2 separate regions of the Homo sapiens genome follow, and region 1 is linked to region 2. Evidence: fine-mapped expression QTL. A gene starts in region 2. The other region holds a variant in brackets. All regions are shown on one strand. Distances are from middle to middle. Region 1 has its middle 5.7 kb from the start of FGFR3. Region 2 holds the start of SLBP (stem-loop histone mRNA binding protein).

Region 1 (9,650 bases), 75 kb after region 2:
ACTCTATGGATGACTGCATGGGTGAGCCCACGGCCATGCAGGGAGCCCGGTCCTCCGGGCTGGGACCGGCCTTGAGATGGGATGCATGGCCAGGAGGCGGGCGATGGCCGAGGTGAGGGGCTCAGGGAGGGGGCTGGTCATGGCATTCAGAGCCAGGTTATGATGGGGCCTGGCCATTGACGACAGACGGGGTGATGACAGCGGGGCCCCAGGATGGAGCCTGCAGTCCACGACATTCAGAGCAGAGCATGGGGCATGCAGGAAAGGGGGCCAGAGGACCTGCTGGGTCTTTCCGGGTGTATGGTGCCAGCAGGTGTCCAGCGCCTCCAGCCCCTTGTCTGAGAGCAATGGAGACAGGTGGGGGGGGGGGGTGCAGGGCGTCTGGGTAGAACCTGAACAGAGAGGCCCTGGGGAACAGGCTGGCTGTCGAGTCTCCACCTGCCCAAGCCAATTTCTGGCACTACCAGTTCTGTGAGCTCCACAGTAGCAAGCAGTGGGGTCCTATAAGCTCTCTGGGCGGAGTGCCATGTCTGCACCCCTCACGGGCCTGCATGCACAAGCCGTGCAACTTGAGTCCAGGGCATCCTTAGGAGAGGGTGTGTGGGGCCGCCCTGGGGGTCCTGCCATGCTGTGGTGGGGTCACAATGTCAACGTTGCAGCGGGGGGAGGTCCAGGCACAGGACCATTTTGTCTCGGGGGAGCTAAGGGTCTTCCAGCAGTAAGGGGTGGGTGGGCAGGGGCAGGGATGGGGGCGGGATGGGGGCGGGATGGGGGTGGGATGGGGGTGGGATGGGGGGTCTCTTTGAGACTCACCAGCCCCTGGTTTTGGAGATTTGCCCGTCCCCCTGCTCTTCAGTGGGGTGGATCTGGGAGGACCGCAGAGCCAGCAGCAGCTGGTGGACCGACCCTGCCCAGCAGGTGCACAGATTGCCCCAAGGCAGGGCTGGAAGCCCAGGCAAGCCCAGGCCTCTGTGGGGCCAGGGAGGAAGTGGGGAATGAAGAAACTCTGTGGAGGGAGGTGCCTGCCCTTGGACCCTTGGCTTGGTCTGAGCTTCCTGGCAGCCAGGGCAAAGAGAGAAAGAAGGTGCCCCATGCTCAGGAGAGAGTGGTGCAGCAGGGTTCGGTGGGCAGACGGCTCAGCCTCTACCCTTGGCACCCAGGATGGGGGTCACCTGCAGCCCGTCCCTCTCTTCAGTCCCTGCCCTCCAGGAACCAGGTTAGAGGCTGGGCAGGGGTATGGGGCCCAGGGCTTCAGTCCTGAGGTGCCCGTGACAGTGTCCTGCAGTTCCTGCACCGCCAGGAGGATGAGCCTCGAGGGCTAATGAGCCCCACACGGCCGGGCCAGCCTCAAGGCCAAGGCACAGCTCTTGCGGAACCCTGGCAGCTTCTCTGAGGCAGCCATGCGGAAGATGGGGGTGTGTCCTGGTGCAGCAAGCTGGGGGTTGCTTGGGAGGCAGGACGAGCTTGACCCAAGGGAGGGTGCTTGATGGGCAGTCCTGAGGTGCTCAGCCAGGAAGCGACTATGATTGATTTGCTGTGCACCCAGGGCAGGGGCTGTCCTCCCGAAGCTGAGCTTCTTCACCTGTCTTCTGACTCACTTATCTCCCCGAGCCCCGGAGATACAAGGATCACAGGCAGGGGCCTTCTCCTGAGCTGGCCAGAGCTGGGCAGGACACTTGGGGCACGCAGCTTTTGTGGGCTAGCCTGGAAACTCGGCTATCCTGGACACCACACTGGCAACAGGTTGTCTGGAGCCAGGTCGGGGCATGTGGGGCCTGAGCCAAGGCTGTCAGCTGAAGCCTCTGACATTACTTGTGTCCCTAGGACAATCACACGTGAGAGCACATGCACACGTGACCATGTGAGCACACAGGCACGGGTTCGGGCCCCAGGCTGTGCTGCCACCTGAAGCCCCTGCCCTGGCTGTGGATGCCCATTTGGCTGGGCACAGCAAGGCGGCGGCCTTGGCACAGGGAGCCTGCCCAGCCTTGCTCTGACCCAGTTTTCCATGCCCAGGCAGGCGGGTGGCACTGGTGTAGTGGCTCCCAGAGCTTCTCTTTGGCAACACCAATCCCCTGGGCCCAAAGCAGCTCCACAGGGGCACCTGGATGGCTCCATGTGCCCTGGGCATGTCCTCTGAGAGGGTGGGTGCCCCCCTGGGATGTGGCCACCCAGCCCCAGCGGTTTCACACCCTAGAACCAGTGCCTTCTGCCTGTGGTCCCTAGGCACACAGCTGCCGCTGCCTGAATGCGCTCTGCCTGCCCTGCCTTCTGCCTCCAGATGAACGGACCTGTCATCCAGGGAGCGATCCCTGTGGCCCTCCACTCTAGACCTGCAGGCTGCTTCCTTGCCCACTCCTGGGGGTCAGTCATGGCCTGGCTGTAGACCAGATCCTTGAGGGGTGAATCTGGGGATAAGCCTCAGAGCCACAGGGCCTGGGCAGGCCTCAGAAGGCATCCCAGAGAAGGGAGGGTGGAAGGTCCCCATGGGCAGGGAGGCGCAGGGAGCAAAGGCTGCTGGGAGCAGGGAGGGGAGCTGGGCGGGCGGAAGGGCGGCCGTGGGAAGCCAGCCCTGGCCTGGCTGGCCTGATAAGCTGCCCCTTTGATCCACACTGAGGCAACACAGACCCCCATCCTGAGATAACCCCGGGCCTGGGACCCAAGGCTCTGGTCAACCCGCCCTCCCGAGTGTGCGCTGCCCTGCCCCTCCGGCCCTGACAGTGACCGGTCCTTGCTCAGCTGCAAGCTGGGTGGGTGCAGTCTGAGCCCAGGCCTGGCGGGCACTCCATGTGCCCCCACCCCAGGACCTGCTGGTCCTCACCCTGCCTTCAAAGCCTCCCCAGCCCCAGCCTCTGTGTCCAGCTCTCTGTCCCCTTTGGTTGGGAAGGGGCACCTCCCCCGCCCCCCAGTTCCCATCCCCTTCACTGTGCCCCTGGGAGGCCCCTGAGGCCCTCACTCCCCAGCTGGGGCTCAGCAGGTTTGAGGCCCTTTGGGCAGCCCTGTCTGACCAGGGCTATAGTGTGGCACAGGTGTGGGCACAGGTGTGGCATAGGCGTGGGCACCAGCTATGTGTGGCTTGGGTGCACACTGCGTAGGCACCTTCTCCCGGGCGCCTGCCTCTGCCTGGCGCCGGTCAGCACCCCCATGCCCTCGGTCCCTCCCCTGCCCAGGTCAGTGGACAATGAAGCTGTCAGCAGACTGGGGCCGGGGGAGGCAGGCAGGCGTGGCGGGGAAGGGAGGCCTCAGGAGGCGAAGATGTCTCTATTAGGGGCTGCAGACCTTGCTTCCACTGTCCTGCCCAGCCCTGGGGACTCCGAGAGCTGGAGGCAGAGGTGGCCCCAAGCTTGGGGCAGAAAGGGTCGTCTTGTCCATCAGGGCCCCAGTCAGCCTTGGGACTGGGTCCCTGGAAAGGCAGGCCCATAGATGGAGGAGCCCAGAGCGTGGGGCTGGCCACAGGTGGTCAGGGAGGGTGGAAGCGTGGCTGGGAGCTGCACAGGGATGAGGTGTCGACGGCGCTGACATCCCAGCCCTGCCAGCCTCCTAAGGCACCCACGGCCCACATCTCCCTGCTGAGCGGAAGCACTGGGGGACGCTCTACCCAGTGCCTCAGCAGACCCTCAGCCAACGGCTGTTAGAATATACCTCGTGTGAGGTGCGTCACGATACCCAGCTGTAAAATGGGGCAACCCTGTGGCTTCAACAGACTCCCCTTCCCAGTGCCTGCGGCTGAGCTGGAGTGGCAGGAGGGCTTCTGTGGGAGCAGGTGGCAGGAAGCATAAGGGCTGGGGGACCTGCAGAAGCTCCGTACCCCCGGGAGGCTGGGGCCAGAGCAGGCTTCTTGCAGGGGCGCTGGTTTCGGCCCTCACCCTGACTGCCCTGCCGGATCCGGGCAGACGAGGCCCCACGCACACCGCAGCAAGGGGCCCAAGACGCCAGCCAGGCCCTCACCTTGGCAAGAGGTGGCTTCTGTTTCTGACAGGTCAACAGCTGGGCTAGGGGAGGTCTCCAGGGACCAGCCACGCCCCACTTCCTGAGGGCTGGAGAGGGCTGGGGAGGGTGGCCCAGGTCTGCGATCATCAGGGCCTGGCCAGGGCCTTCTTTCCCAGATTCCCCCAGAGCTGGAGTCCCCAGAGCCACGCCCCTTCCCTGGCATGCCCTGGCGCC[C/T]GGGCCATCTCCTCCTGGGCACTTGCGGAGGTTGCCCCTGCTCTCCCCACTGCCCTCTCAGCAGGCGTGAATAGAGTCCCTCATAGCTTGGGAGACTGAGGCCCCCAGCAGGTGCCTCTTACCCAAGACCTTGGAACTGGGCGAGGTCCTCCGGGCCCACCAGGACCCGCCTCAGACATCAGGCTTTGCACTTGCAGCCCGGAGCCTCCCGACCCCACTCCCAGGCCAAGGGCCTCTGGCCGCAGCCTCCGCCATCATCTGCCGGCTTCTGGGGCCGAGCATCAGGGCCCTGTGCCCCTGCTGAGCGTGCCGGGTGGGGGCCGGGCTGAAGGCTGCACCTGGAGGCAGGGCTCCCGAGGAAGCCGCCCAGGGGGTCAGAGCCAAACAGCTGCCTCCTCTAGTCAGCCCCATGCAGCCTTACGGGGGCAGCGCCCTGCAGTGGCTGCGGGTGGGGCCGGGTGGGGCAGGGCTGCCCTCCCTCATGCCGCTGGGCACCTGGCCTGGGGCAGGGGGCTCTGGCCCACTCTCGGGTCTCCCTAAATACTGTGGCGAACACCCCACCCTTCCCAAGCTCAGCTGAAACCTCCCTGGGGCAGGGCTGTCAGATCAGGCCACTGAGCGCCTCCTGCTGCCTGTGGCTCTGTGCCTCAGTTTCCCCACCTGTCAAGTGGGTGTTGGTGATGTGGCTGGCATGAAGTTTCTGTCAGGAGCCACCAGCACTCCGCACCTTGCCATCCACAGGTTCTCAGCCACACAGGGTGTGGGGTTGCCCCAAGCCAACCCATTTGTGGGGGTGGGGCCGTCCCCACACCCCGGCTGGGCTGGACGGGATCTCCAGCCTCTCGTGGGCAGCTGCCTGCTGGGCCCAGTTGGCCACTCTGGACTCTTGGGCCCTGGCCGGAAGCACGACTGACGTTGTCCATGGTTTGGGGACGGGCAGGCAGAGGGTGGCCAGGCGAGGCCCTGAGAAGGGGCTCTGGCCGAGGCTGGCCAGGTGACACCCGGAGTGGCGGGCAGGGCTGAGAGGAAGGGGCATCCTGAAGAGGGCGGAGGCCGCGGAGGGAGGAGGGTGTGACGTGGGGTTGGACCGGCGGCCCCGAGGCCTGGATTCCTAATTCAGCCGGAGCCTGTGGAGTCGGGGCTTGTTTATTCTTGGCAGGAAGGCTGGTGCTGGGGGGGCAGAAGTGGGGAGTGAAGCCTTTTCAAAAAATAATAATAATAAAAACGCTCATTTAGAAGGCTCCCAAGGCGTGCTGAACTCCAAAAGGGTCTTGGAAAAAATGCTGAGAGGGTTTAAGTGTAAATGGACCCAAAACACCATAATTAAATTTCCTTTAAATTTACCAGAGTTTGGGGTCAAAGAAAAAATAAAACTTAGGGAAAATACACTTGAGGTTTCAGGCAAATGCCAAGTGCTTAGGAAAATAGATTCTGAGCTGCTCAGCGGCTACCGGCCTGGCCCCCGCCATCCTGGGAGCTGCCCAGCCTTAACCCCTCCCTGGCCAGCCCTCCACTGCCCGCCCCACCCACCCCTGTGGGGGACCCCACCACCACCTCCTGCTGCTTCCGCACAGTTCGAGCCGCCCTCCTGTGCCAGACTCCAGGCAGGGAGCTGGGCCTCCCCCACTCCCAGGCTGGGGCAGGAGCCCAGGGGGAGCCTGAACATTCACCCCCGCCCCCATCTCTACAGCTCTCTCTTGTGTCTGCAGACAGCTCTGGTTTCCTTTCTTTGCTCATCTGGGAGCAGCCACATTTTCCAAACCAAAGTCAGAACTTGAGGTCTAGTGGTCTGAGTGAACCAAACGGTAAAAAGGCCAGAATGTTTGAACTGGGACTGTCCTGCCATATCCAAGACGACAGGCTCCCAGCAGCTCATGACTCACGGTGTTACCCTTTTTCCTCAGCCTGCCAGGAAGCTCAGAGCTAAAATTAAGGGTCTTGCTAGCTGCGTTGGCTTAGGGATTTTGGAATATTTTTTCTTCTTCTTCACGTTCTTTAAAATTTCATTTCTGTTATAATGAGCAAATCAAGGTTTGTTTTTTTATTTTAATACTTTTCAAATTTTGTGAGAATAAATTTAAAAGGCAAAGTCAGGCATGGTGGCACATGCCTGTATTTGGGAGGCTGAGACGGGAAGATTGTTTGAGCCCAGGAGTTCAAGACCAGCCTGGACAGCATAGTAAGACCCTGTCTCAAAAATAAAATAGAAGGCAGAAACTACCCATAAACTATAATAGCTATAGCCCCACTAACAGCCCAGTCCAGTTCAGCAGGGCTACCCAGGGGCCCTTCTTCCTCCATCCCATGGTGGCCTGCCCTGATCCCTGGCACCCAACCCTGTGCCCTGACAGTGTGGAAGGGCACTAGTGGTTCCTGGGGAAGGTGGTAGGAGATGGGGAGCTCCGAGGGGAGATCGCATGGCTCCCAGGGGGTCCCATGGGCAGAAGGGACTTGATACCCACTCCGGACCTCCGTGTCCCCTGTCCTTCCACTCAGCCTCATGGCAGGGCCGAGGGAAGCTCCCCGCAGCAGCCCCAGCCCTAGGCCAGGTTCTGATCCCAGAGGGGAGCTGGGCAGGAGGCTCTCTCTGGCAGCTCGCCTGCCCTGGGTTCCAGGTCTCCAAGCCTCGGCCTCCCTGCCCACCTCCCTGTCGGGAAAGGCGGCAGCTGCCTGCCCGGAGTGCTGTGGGGAACAGGCGGTGTGGATCTGAGACTGTGCTGGGAATGTCCTCTCTGCCGAAGGCGCCTCTGCCATTTTCCGAGTACCTGCAAGGGAGACGCAGGAGACGCGGGTGTGAGCGGGGCCATGGGCAACCTGCGGAGGCCCTGCACCCAGGATGGGCCTCCCTCCCAGGCACCCTCTGCCACTCACCCACGCAGGCCCCAGCAAGCCAGGCTGCCCAGCTCTGAGTCACCGCCAGGGCTGGGCTGGGCCGGGCCGTCAGCCGCACGCGCCGCTTGTCTCGGCCCCTGCCTCCCATACTCACCTTCAGGGGGGACCCCTGGGTATGGGCCTCAGGAGGTGGGTGGGGGTGCAGGGGGAGTGGGTAGGGAGGTGTAAACCGGAGTCCAGCAGATGGGAAGTTCCTGTCCGGCCGGCACCTGCTTGGAGCCTCCTGCACATGCGGACCCTCAACAGGCTCCCCGAGTCCTCGCCTGCCCTCCCTGCCTCAAAGGCCCCAGAAGGGCCTACTTCATCAGGTGCCACGAGGATGAAGCCAGGTAATATTGCAAAGGGTCTGTGGAAACGCTTGAGCAAGGGCACTGTGATGAAATTGTGGCTACTGACAGCTAATGTGCAGAGTCACCGAAATTCAGGAGTCAAGCAGCCGGCCTGGCCTCACCTCAGTGTCGGGGGAATGCCATCTGCACCTGTGGGCTTGGAAGTGATCCATTTGAACAATACAATTATTCAGACAATACTAAACCGAGCTTTCAGGCAAGACCTCCCGTGGCCCTGACAGTCCTGGGGCAGAGTGGGCAGCAACTCCTTGCTGGTGGCCGTGGCGGCACTAGGACCCTTTTGAAACCAATTTGGCAAAATTAGCGGCACCACGGAAATGCTCCTGCCCTTTGACCTAACTGCTCCCAGACAGTGCCACTGGAGAAGCCATTCAGAATGTGGAGGGCGCCAGAGGAGGCAGCTGCCACGCAGTGCGTAGTGGGCAGAACGGCGGCCTCCAAAAGACATAGTCATGTCCTCACCCCTTGCAGCCTGTGAACGTGACCGTATTTGGAAAAGGATCTTTGCAAATGTAATTAAGGTGAGAATCTTGAGATGGGGGATCCTCTTGGATTATCCAAGTGGGCCCTATATCCAACGACAAGTGTCTGTATAAGAGATGGAAGAGAAGATGGCAGAGTGGGAAGCAGATGCTGGAGCAATGAGGCTGCGAGCCAAGGGACTTGGAGCCCTGGGACACTTGGAGCCCCCAGGAGCTGGAAAAGGCAGGAAAGATCTTCCCTGGAGCCTTCAGAGGCAGTGCAGCCCTGCCTACACCTTGATTCCAGACATCTGCTCTTCCAGACTATGAGAAAGTAAATTTAAGTCAATTAGTGTGCAGTAATTTGTGAGGGCAACCTAGAAATACAAGATGCTACTGAACTAAGGAATCCCCGGCTGCTACTGGAGGGAGAGGTGGTGGGCCTGGGCCAGGGCTGCGGGGACAAAGGGAGGGAGTGGGTTGTGAAAGTGCCTGGTCCCCAGTCCCTCCTCCTGCCAGCACTGCCCACTGGTCAAACCCACCCAGAAGCTGGAGAGCAAGGGACCCTCAGAGATAGGGTCTGTAGGATCAGGCTTTCAAGGACAAATGGGAGAGGGGCTGGGGAAGGGACACATGGGGACCAGACCCCTACTGGGCATTTCTGCCAAGGAGAGGATCCTGGTGAGGAAGAAAGCAGAAAGCTATGTGTTCACAGATGCACGGATGCTCCCCTCCCAGAGACCCGTGGCCGTGGGTGCAGAGGGAGTCAGTCCTTCTTGGAGGTACTGGGAAAGGAGCCTACAGCTCCACTGAGCCCTTCTGCCTACAGGAGGGGCCCCACTCAGCAGCTGTTCCCTGAGGGAGACCTGTCCACGCGTGAGCTCCTTCCCACAGTCCCATCCAGTCCCCCAGGGGAAGGGGCAAGACGGTCAGGTCAGGACCCACACGCATGCTGGTGCTTTCAGAACCTGATGACTTAGTTGGTTAAGAGAGCTCACACCTGCAATCCCAGCACTTTGGGAGGCTGAGGCAGGTGGATCAGTTGAGGTCAGGAGTTCAAGACCAGCCTGGCCAACATGGTGAAGCCCCGTCTCTACTAACAATACAAAAATTAGCCGAGTGTGGTGGTGCACACCTGTAATCCTAGCTACTTGGGAGGCTGAGACAGGAGAATCACTTCAATCAGGGAGGCAGAGATTGCTTGAGCTGAGACTGTGCCACTGCACTCCAGCCTGGGTGACAGAGCGAGACTCCCTCTCAAAAAAAAAAAAAAAAAAAAAAAAGAGCAGGGCCAATGTGCTGCTGTGCCTTGGGGAACGGTGTCCTGGGAGCGGACCTGGCTGGCAGTGACCTGGGGCTGTGCACTGGAGGGGGCTGGACAGTGCACTTGGAGGTGGGTGAGCCTGGGCCCCAAGACGGTCTGGGGACATGGGCTTGGCCAGAGCAGGAAATGAGGGTGGCCAAGGACAGGTGCTGAGCCACCGAGTCGGCACAGAGGGGTGGGCATGAGGGCTTCCTGGGAGCAGGGCCCTTCCAAGTCCCTGAGGTCAGCCCAGGGACACCCTGGCCTCTGGGAGATTCATGGTGGGGCTGTGCATGGGCTGGGTGGGGTCAGCAGGCAGCCAGTCACTGAGGGGCTTTCAGCGCCCATTTTCCTGATGAGCACCTCCAGTCCTGGAAGCCACAAGCCAGGCACGCAGCCCACCCGGCCGGCCCTCCCGGCCAGCTCACTGGCTCCCATGGGCCCCGGACCTCCTTGGGCTTTGCCTGAAGGTGGGAGCAG
Region 2 (9,650 bases):
TAGGATAGGCATAGTGGCTCACACCTGTAATCCCAGCACTTTGGGAGGCTAAAGCAGGCTGATCACTAAGTCAGGAGTTCGAGACTAGCCTGACAAACATGGTGAAATCTAGTCTCTACTAAAAATACAAAAATTAGCCAGGCGTGGTGGTGCGCACCTGTAATCTCAGCTACTCAGGAGGCTGAGGCAGGAGAATTGCTTGAACCCGGGAGGCAGAGGTTGCAGTGAGCTGAGATCGCGCCACTGCACTCCAGCCTGGGCGACAGAGCAAGACTCTATCTCAAAAACGAAAAAAAAAAAAAAAAAATCAGGCGGGCGTGGTGGCGCATGCCTGTAGTCCCAGCTACTTGGAGGCTGAAGCAGGAGAACTGCTTGAACTTGGAAGGCAGAGGTTACAGTGAGGTGAGATCACACCACTGAACTCCAGCCTGGTTGACAGTTATGCCCCGTCACAAAAAAATACACTAGATACTAACTTTAATTACAACAAATAAGCAACCTATTTTAGCTGTAAACCAAATGCTGTGCTTTGAAAATGCAATTGCAGTAACAAATGAATAATCCTCTTATGTAATTATCATTTCTTCCCTTACAGTCACACAACTCAGATAAACTTAAATTGGATTTCTAAAAGTAAATTTCCAGATTCTAAAAATGGTAGAAAGTTATGAAATCAAATTAGGTAATTAACTGAAAATTAAATTGACTCAATAGAGGTTTGTCCAGGATTGGATACAAGCATCCTCACTAGTGTATCAAGAGGTTCAAGTCTGGGTCTGCCAACATAACAAATTCCTGAACTACAAGAATAATTTAAAGCCTGTGTATGTGAATGACCATATACTACATGCCATATTTTGGTATCTTTAAGTCCATTTCTTAGATTAAGTAGGTTATATTCATAATCTACCCTATCTTGGGACAACAAAGCCTAATTTTACACACTAAGCTAACAACCTTCCAAAGAGTACTTCTAGATCTTATCCATCAACGAGCTGGCTCTATTTGTCAGGTGCCTCCAGGCATTATCCACAATGTGCAAATACCAAGTGCAAAGGCCCTAGGACAGAAGCATTCCTATAGTTTGAGGAATGAGGACACCAAAAACTTCCATAACTTCTAAAGCACTGTAAGGATTTAATATTTTTATCTTCAGCTAAATGAGACCACTGGAGAGTTCAGAGCTTGATCTCAATAAGGTTTGTTTACCTTCCCTTCATATCTGGACCTAGGGCCTCTTCTGTACCCACCCGTAGACCCAAGTCTTTTGTCTTTTTTTTTTTTTTGAGACAGTTTCACTCTTATTGCCCAGGCTGGAAGGCAATGGCGTGATCTCGGCTCACCGCAACCTCCACCTCCTGGGTTCAAGGGATTCTCCTGCCTCAACCTCCCGAGTAGCTGGGATTACAGGCATGCGCCACCATGCCCGACTAATTTTGTATTTTTAGTAGAGATGGGGTGTTGGGAAAAAGGCTTATCGAGTGCCTGTATAAGCTGGCCATAAAAATATGGCACAGTAAGTTGTGAAAAGCCACAAGAGGCCTCTGAGGAGGAAAGCCTCCTAATTGCCATCATGTTCCCATGCTCAGAGCGAGACCTGCTCTCTTATCTGTAAACAGTGTTCAAGAAGAAAGACATTCCTTTAAAGCACTGGAATGTGGACAGATTTGCAGGCTCCTAGTTAAGCCCGCTCCCACTAGCTACTCTCCAATAAGTTAGATATGCTGTTTGAGCACAAAGGAGATTCATTGAAACCGCTATAATTACGCCTATGACGCCTGCCTCCCTTTCACTGTTTCACCCTGAACATCTACTTCTTTTTTTTTTTTTTTTGAGACGGAGTCTCGCTCTATTGCCCCAGCTGGAGTGTAGTGGGGCGATCTCGGCTCATCGCAAGCTCCGCCTCCCGGGTTCACACCATTCTCCTGCCTCAGCCTCCTGAGTAGCTGGGACTACAGGCGCCCGCTACCACGCCCGGCTAATTTTTTGTATTTTTAGTAGAGACGGGTTTTCACCGTGTTAGCCAGGATGGTCTCCATCTCCTGACCTCGTGATCCACCCGCCTTTTGCCAAGGCGCTGGGATTACAGGCATGAGCCACCGCGCCCGGCCTACTTCTTAAAGTGATTGTACTCAATAAATAGTGTGGAGACCGCAACTCCGGGCCTTTTGCAGCCTCCATTTTCCAACTGGTCCCCTGGCTCCCACCTTTATGAGCTCTTAACCTGTCTCTTCTCATTCCGGGTAAGTGTCGAGGCTGGTCCCCAACAATGGGGTTTCTCCATGTTAGTCAGGCTGGTGTCGAACTCCTGACCTCAGGTGATGGGCCCGCCTTGGCCTCCCAAAGTGCTGGGATTACAGGCAGGAGCCACTGCGCCCAGCCCCCTAGACCCAAGTCTCTAAATATCATCTCTATGTCCTGGTAACTCACTGTGCCTGAAGATGCCTCCCATGTAGACTCCTACACTCCGTTACCTTTCTTGACATCTCCTTTGCTTCTCTAAGCAGCTTCTCAAGCCTCACAACTTCCCATGCCTAGCTGCTCCAGCCCATCTTCTCTATCTTAGCAAATGGCCCCAATCAACAGCGTTCAGACCTAAAGGCTTGAGTCATTCTTGATGCCTCTTTCCTGTGTAAACCAAAAAGTGTCTGAGACAGGTCTCAATTGCTTTAGGAATTTAGCTAATGTTAAGGACATACCTAGAAGAACACGAAATTACAGAAAGAGTCTGTGGTCTGTGCCTTTCTCCAGAGATGACTGTCAGGGCTTCAATATTTAAAAGAGAAAAGTAGGTTGAAGGAGAAAGATCTACATGTTCCAAGAGAAAAGGAGCAGGTAGGGGAATAGTCAATTATGTATTCCTAGTGTGCTCAGTAAGTCGCCACTTAAAGTGAACAGAGTTCACCCGTGGAGATATTTAATCTTGTATCTGTAGGTATCTGCTTAGAAAAAAAAAAAGAAACACAAAGGTGGCCGGGCGCGGTGGCTCACACCTGTAATCCCAGCACTTTGGGTGGCCAAGGTGGGTGGATCACTTGAGGTCAGGAGTTCGACACCAGTCTGGTCAACATGGTGAAACCCTGTCTCTACTACAAATACAAAAAGTTAGCCGGGCGCGGTGGCATGCGCCTGTAATCCTAGCTGCTGGGGAGGCTGAGGCAGGAGAATCACTTGAACCCGGGAGGGGGAGGCTGCAGTGAGCCAAGATCGCGTCACCGCACTCCAGCCTGTGAGACAGAGTGAGACCCTGTCTTTAAAAAAAAAAAAAAAAAAAAAAAAGTAACGCAAAGGTAGTTTCTTGCATGATTCCGCGCTCAGCATAATTTTTTCCTTTTGGCACAGTGAAGTTGGGTCCGATTTTTTTTTTTCCTTTCACGCCTCCCATCCCCAACCCATCAGCAAGTCTCACAGGTCCTGCCTTCAGAAGCCTATCCCGAACCACGCATTTCCCTCCACCTTCACTGCTCCATCTCGGCCAAGTCACCACGCCTTTCAGGGAACTCAGGAGCAACAAGCCCCCAGTGCGGGACGAGCCACCCCAAAGCCCCTCGAGAAGTTTTCTCTAACCACAGCCCCGAAAAGCCCCGCCACTACGACCACTGGCACCCCTGCTTATTTCCTCCAGACCCTCCTCGGCCGTCCCACCCCATCAAGCCCTCCTTTCGCTCGCATCTCCACCCTCCCTGCACACTGCCTAACCCAGAAAATGGCCAAGCAGGTAAGCCCTGTCAACTCACTTCTCCTCGGGACTCGGGTGTCCCTGACTTCCACGTGTTCACGAGAAGCTCGTCAGAGACCCTGACCTCTCCCGGGAGCACAACACAGACTCGAACTGGCTAACTCGGGCTGACGCCGGTTCAGCTGACTCCCATCCTGGCAAGAGGCTTCCGGAGTGTTCCAGCGCCTCCCAGGCCTGCTGCGGCCGCCCCAGTCCACGGGCCGCGCGGAGACCAAGATAAAAGGACGCAGGGTGCCGACCTGACCGATCCCGGCACCGCGAGAGCGCGACGAGGTCCCTGGAGCCCGCGGCCTCGTCAAGGGCCCCACCGCGCCCCGACCCCCGGGTCCCGCGCCCACCTCTCGGGTCTGCGCTCGGCGCCGCGGTGCTCTGCCTCCTCGGCGTCTTCGGGCCTCCAGCGCCTGCCGTCGGCTCTGCGCTTCCGTCCCAGGCTCCATCGCGCGGGGGACGGCGGGCTGCGGGGAGGGACGCGGTCGGCTGGGCACGGGAGGTTCGGGACCGCCTTACAACCTCCGCCCTCCCACACCCCGGCCCCGCACAACCCCCGCCCCACGGGGCACGCGCTCCCTCGCCCGCCGCGCAGCCCGGCCTCACCTGGCGTCACCGTCGCAGCGGCTCTGATGCCTCGGCGGGCTTCGCGGGCGGCAGGCCATGGCAGCACGGGCCGGGCGCGCAGCGCAGGGCCGAGGCTGAGGCGGCGGCGGCGCGGGCAGAGAGCGCAGAGTAGAGCAGGGCAGGGCCTGAGGCAGAAACCCGCGTCCCCGCGCCGGCGCTCACGAGCTCTGCGCGCCCCGCCCCCAACCGCCTTTATGTGGGCGCCGGGCCCCGCCCCTCGGCCTCCCGCGCGCGCCGGGTCGGGCGAGACCATCGGGCCACGCCGCAGGGGTCCACTCAGCTGTGCGCGCCTCGCGAGCCGACTGGGGCTAGGGCGAGGCCTCGGGACCGCGGGCAGCCGCGAAGCCCGACTGCCCGGCCCTCGGCTCGGGAGCCAGATGGACGCCGTGGGCTGAGGAGAGGCCTGAGGAAAAGGTTGCCCCCACCCGCGGGATTGAGGCGGCCGGGCCGCCGCGGGCCTCTGCGACGCTGATAGGTCGCGCCTTGGCGGGCGGGGGCAGCTTTGGCGGGAGATTCGGCCGCGCGCGACGCGGCGCAGGTCGTGGGGGAAGGGTAAGCGGCACGTTTCTCGGCCTGGGTCGTGGCGCATCTCCCATTGGTTCCGGCCTGGGTGGAGCGCGGCTCTGCTTGGTTCCTGCCCAGGTGGGGGCGTGTCTCCTCCCTGGCGGGAACCCGGAACCCGGAACCCGGAAGGCGCGGCCTGTGGCGGGTACTGACTGCTTCCCACGGTCCCGTGGCCGCTGCAGGCCCCGTACGCGCCGTCTATTGTTTTGAGCCGCTTAAAGTTTTGGAGTAACCTTTTAGGTCGCAACAGTTGACAACTACACTGAGTCTTTCCGGTCCCACTGCCCTGGCCGTTGACCGCACACCGGCCACCGACTGAGCCGCTAGTTTCGGTTGCCGCTGCCTCCCTGCCCGTCCATGACGTCCTCCACTGTGTCGCCGGTGCATGACGCTCCCACCCTCTGCCTGGAGTTGACTGGGTTTGTATCCTGAAGAATCCCTGGCTCAGCAGGTAGGTTCCACCTGGAGGCGAGGTCCTGTAGATCCGCACCATCCCGTCCCGCTTCCCCGCCGTCACAGTTGCAGCTGACGGCCCCGCGGATCCAGCCAACTAGAACCCCAACGGGTGCACTACACCTGAGAACAGGTTCCCACAGCTTCCTGTTGGGGACAACGTGAGGGATGCAGGGGAGAGTGGAACCAGCCAAAAGAGTGGGCAGTGGGGTCAGGTCCAGGAGGCTGAGCCCCAGGGATGCTTGGGATCCCTCTAAGGCCTTACACCTCTGGGAGGGCCGGACTTTTGCACCTGCTGCCCTCAGGACTGTGCCTTGGTGCGTCCACCGCCCCCTTTTGAACTCAAAAAAGTCATCCTCAGACTAGGACGGACACATCCTGTCCCCTTCCTCCCCAGGCCCTGGGCATCCCATAACCCTCAACACTGTAAACTAAAAATAAAATCCTGGCAGGGCGCGGTGGCTCATGCCTGTAATTCCAACACTTTGGGAGGCCGAGGCGGGAGGATCATCTGAGGTTGGGAGTTCGAGACTAGCCTGACCAACATGGAGAAACCCTGTCTCTACTAAAAATACAAAATTAGCCTGGCATGGTGACGCATGCTTGTAATCCCAGCTACTCGGGTGGCTGAGGCAGGAGAATTGTTTGAACCCGGGAGGCAGTGGGCTAAGATTGCACCACTGTACTCCAACCTGGGCAACAAGAGCAGAACTCTGTCTCAAAAAAAATTAAAATCCTAAGCCCCCAACAACTGAATGGACCCCCTTGCGGTCAAGGGGACACCAGTGGCAATAAGATACCAAATTATGAATAGGACCTAAGGTCATGCCAGGCAAGGGTTAAGTCACACACCCTACATTTAAACTATATTCCTACTGCCACACTGCTTTTCTTTTCCTCTTAGTAGCTCAATAAGCACTGGCCTTGAGCTAAGCAATATTGGAACAGTGCAGTGGCCGAGATGATGGCTCATGCCTGTGATCCCAACACTTTGGGAGGCTGAAGCCTCCAAAAGGATTGCTTCAGGTCCAGAGTTTAAGACCAGCCTGGGTAACAGCGAGACCCTATCTTTACAAAAAACTTAAACAAAAAGGCTAGGCACTGTGGCTCACACCTGTAATCCCAGCATTTTGGGAGGCTGAGGTGGGAGGATCGCTTGAGCTCAGGAATTCGAGACCAGCCTGGGCAACATAGCAAGACTTCATCTTTACTAAAAATCAAAAAAATTAGCCGGCCATGGTGGTGTGTGCCTGTGATCCCAGCTACTCGGAAGCTGAAGTGGGAGGATTCCTTGAACCTGGGAGGTCAAGGCTACAGTGAGCCCAGATGGCGCCACTGCACTCCAGCCTGGGCGACAGAGTAAGACCCTGTCTCAAAACAATAAAAACCAATTTGCAGTTCCACCGGATGCTGACTGATCCCCCAGCCCCTATTCCACCAGCCATAACTACAGTTTCATTGGACAAGAGACTGATTTCAGTAACTTGGTCCAGATAAGAGACCACAGTGATGGACCACTTCTGGCCTGTGTAGAACCTCATTATAATACATTTTAAATGTTAAGTCTCCACCCCAAAGTGAATGTGGATTGTATGTTTGTTCAGGATGCATGCGTCAGGACTGCCTTCATGAATATTCATAGCTCCTCCTGTCACCTGCTGAATATGCATGTTTAGCCAACCCATTCAGCATAAACCTCCTGCCCCAACCCCTCCTCCTCCTCCTCTGAAGTGCCCATCTCTGGTCTTGGCCAGAGGCTGTGCTTTCCAGTCTGAGGGATGGCCATCTTGCAGGCTGTTAACTATTTTTATTTTGAGACAGTCTCACTCTGTCGCCCAGGCTGGAGTGTAGTGACGCGATCTCGGCTCACTGCAATCTCTGCTATCCAGGTTCAAGCGATTCTCGTCAGGCTGTAACTTTTTAGAAGAAATAAACTCTTCTCTAAGTTAACAGTACAGAGCCAAAGAGTCCCAAGTACCTGTGAGTCACAGGGCCTGGCACAGTCAGGGCCCATAACAGCCCCTCAGTAGATGCTCACTGGATCTCTGTTGTTGGTTAAAGCAGCGCCTGGCTGTGTATGCAAAAGAATGCCAGTGAAAGTACCAGGCTGGAAAGAATCTGAAGACACTCGTAGCGCAGGAAACTAGAGCCCACTGTCATATCTTTCAATAGGATTACGTGTACTGTTTCCCCAAGAACCATCCTGTGGGTCAAGAAGCAGAATGGGGAAAAGGCAGCAAGCACTCACTGTCCGGTTGCTGGGGTGCTCACCTGAGGGCCCAGTGCTGTGGGGAACCCCAGGCTGCTGTCTTGGCTGCCCTAGGTGCTCGGCTGGCAATTCCTGGGCCACCCTGACCCACAGTGAGGTCAGTAGAGACAGCCTGGTGTCCTCACAGGACGCAGCTGCAAACATAAGTGAACCGGAAAGGCTGCTCACTCCTTGGCTACCCATGTGTCCCCACATCAGTTCCTGCATCTGGAAGCAGCCGCAGTGGCGACCACACAGTGACTTCCCCCAGGACGTGTCTCTGCCCCTCCCACCCTGCTCCTGCAGAGGGCCCTGGGTCAGGGGTTCTCAAGACCCCAGAGTCCCTAACCAGAAATCAGAGGGGAAGGTTCCTACTGTACCCGCCTCCCAACCAATGGGTTTTTCCTCCTTATTCTGAACAAAGCACGCCACGCACGCAATTCCACCTCTAAGGTGGCTTCTCCAATACCCACAGGCCATTCTCCAACTATGACAAAAGTTTGGTTTTAATATCGGGCAACACAAAACACAGTACATCACTTCAGACTAAATTTTATTAAATATGGTGTCATTTGGCTACAATCGGTTTGTCTTTATAAAACTAAGTAACTTATTTTGTAGTAAAAACAACCCCAACCCACTGCCCCTCTTTGGCAGCCCTTGAAACTCAGTTCAAAGCTAGGCCTGGCTCCCGGCCATGGCCCCTGCTGCCTTCACCTGCTGAGCGCTCTAGGAAGCCTCCCAAATCCCAAGTGTCAGGCCCCCGGAGTCCATCACCTCTGCCTCAAACAGCCAAGCCCAGGGGCTTTGGGGCCGCAGGTATGAAGGCCCCTCCAGTAGCCACACCTGTGTCAGGGCTGTGCCCTGGGGCCTGGCCAACATCCCCCCTCCCCTTGAACCATCAGGAACTGGGCAAGACGCCCACCAGAGGCTTGACCACAGGGGGCGTGCATCCCCTTCTGAGCCTGGGAGACCCTAGGGGAGTGGGTAGCCTGGGCTGGACCCCTGGTGGGCTTGTGTTCTGGATGTCGCTATGGCACTTTGGTCCTCAACTCAAACCCCCACCCCTACCCAGGAGTCTGAGACCTCGGCCTTCCCTGGACTTGTTGGGCAGAAAAAGGCACCAAGGACAGGATGAGAAACCCGGAGGGGCAGCCCCACAAATGAGGGCGCTCTGACCTGTCCTCCCATTGCCACCCCACCCAGGAACAGCCCCTCAACTGGTCACAGCCACCAGGAAGCCCCAGGACTGCTCCCACACCACAGCAGTGCCCTCTTCTCCATCCCACCCTCAGGACCTACCCAGGGTCCTCCAGGCAGCCAGGGGCCAGCTCCAGGACAGGGCAGGAGAATGCGGTCCAGGTCTGGCACGTAACTGAGGGTGGGTATGCTCCAGAGAAGTAAGGCAAATGGCCCAGATGACGACCACCTGGGGTAGACCCAGGGTCTCCAGGGAATGGCTCGGGGGCAGACGCTGTGTCTGTGTGTGCAGGATCTGCCCCCACCAGCAGGAAAGGGGCAGGAGGGAGGCAAAGAGGAGGTGCCCAGGACTTGTACCCTGGCTGCCAAGCAGGGTGGGGTGTTTTCATGAGGATTGCTTTTAACCAAAAGTCCTCAGCCTTCTGCAGACCCAGGGCAGAGGCGAGTTGCTCTACATCATGTGCTTTAAGTAGAGCCCTTTGCCAGCCAGGAGGCCCAGCCACCCCCTTCCCTGCCCTGTGGCTTTGGGGGGAGACACAGAGTCACCTCAAGGCCCCAGCCCACTCAGCGCACGGTGCACACATCCAGGATGCAGAAGCGTGCGCGGCAGGTGGGGCAGGGCACGCGGCTGGCCAGCCAGGTGTCAGGGCGCAGGGGGTCCTGGCGGCTGGCGAACCACTTGCCCATGCAGGTGAGGCACCACATGGGGCGGCAGTAACACTGCTGGCACTCGCCTGTGGCTGCCTCCTGGCAGGTCTTCACCAGCTTCACGCTGGCACGTGTCTGCATGCAGCCTATGCAGGCCTCCAGCTCCTGCGGGCAGGTGGAGCG

What was found. PIP is the estimated chance that this variant, and not a neighbour inherited with it, causes the effect.
Region 1: its variant is fine-mapped to the expression of SLBP in whole blood (TOPMed, PIP above 0.99).

The regions. Positions count from the first base shown.
Region 1 is chr4:1,782,743-1,792,392 of GRCh38, forward strand. No RefSeq gene overlaps it. Among named protein-coding and RNA genes, the nearest start is that of FGFR3, 5.7 kb to the right of the region's middle. RefSeq lists a cis regulatory region at 2,146-3,520. The variant C/T (reference allele first, on the strand shown) is at 4,165.
Region 2 is chr4:1,707,797-1,717,446 of GRCh38, forward strand. SLBP (stem-loop histone mRNA binding protein) reads right to left here and starts at 4,523. Exons shown (of 8, transcript NM_006527.4): 1 at 4,334-4,523; 2 at 4,078-4,194. The coding sequence starts at 4,392. TMEM129 (transmembrane protein 129, E3 ubiquitin ligase) reads right to left here. Exons shown (of 4, transcript NM_001127266.2): 4 at 8,156-9,632. The coding sequence ends at 9,384. RefSeq lists silencers at 3,900-4,019, 4,030-4,939 and enhancers at 5,070-5,359, 7,339-7,448, 7,569-7,638, 7,949-8,048.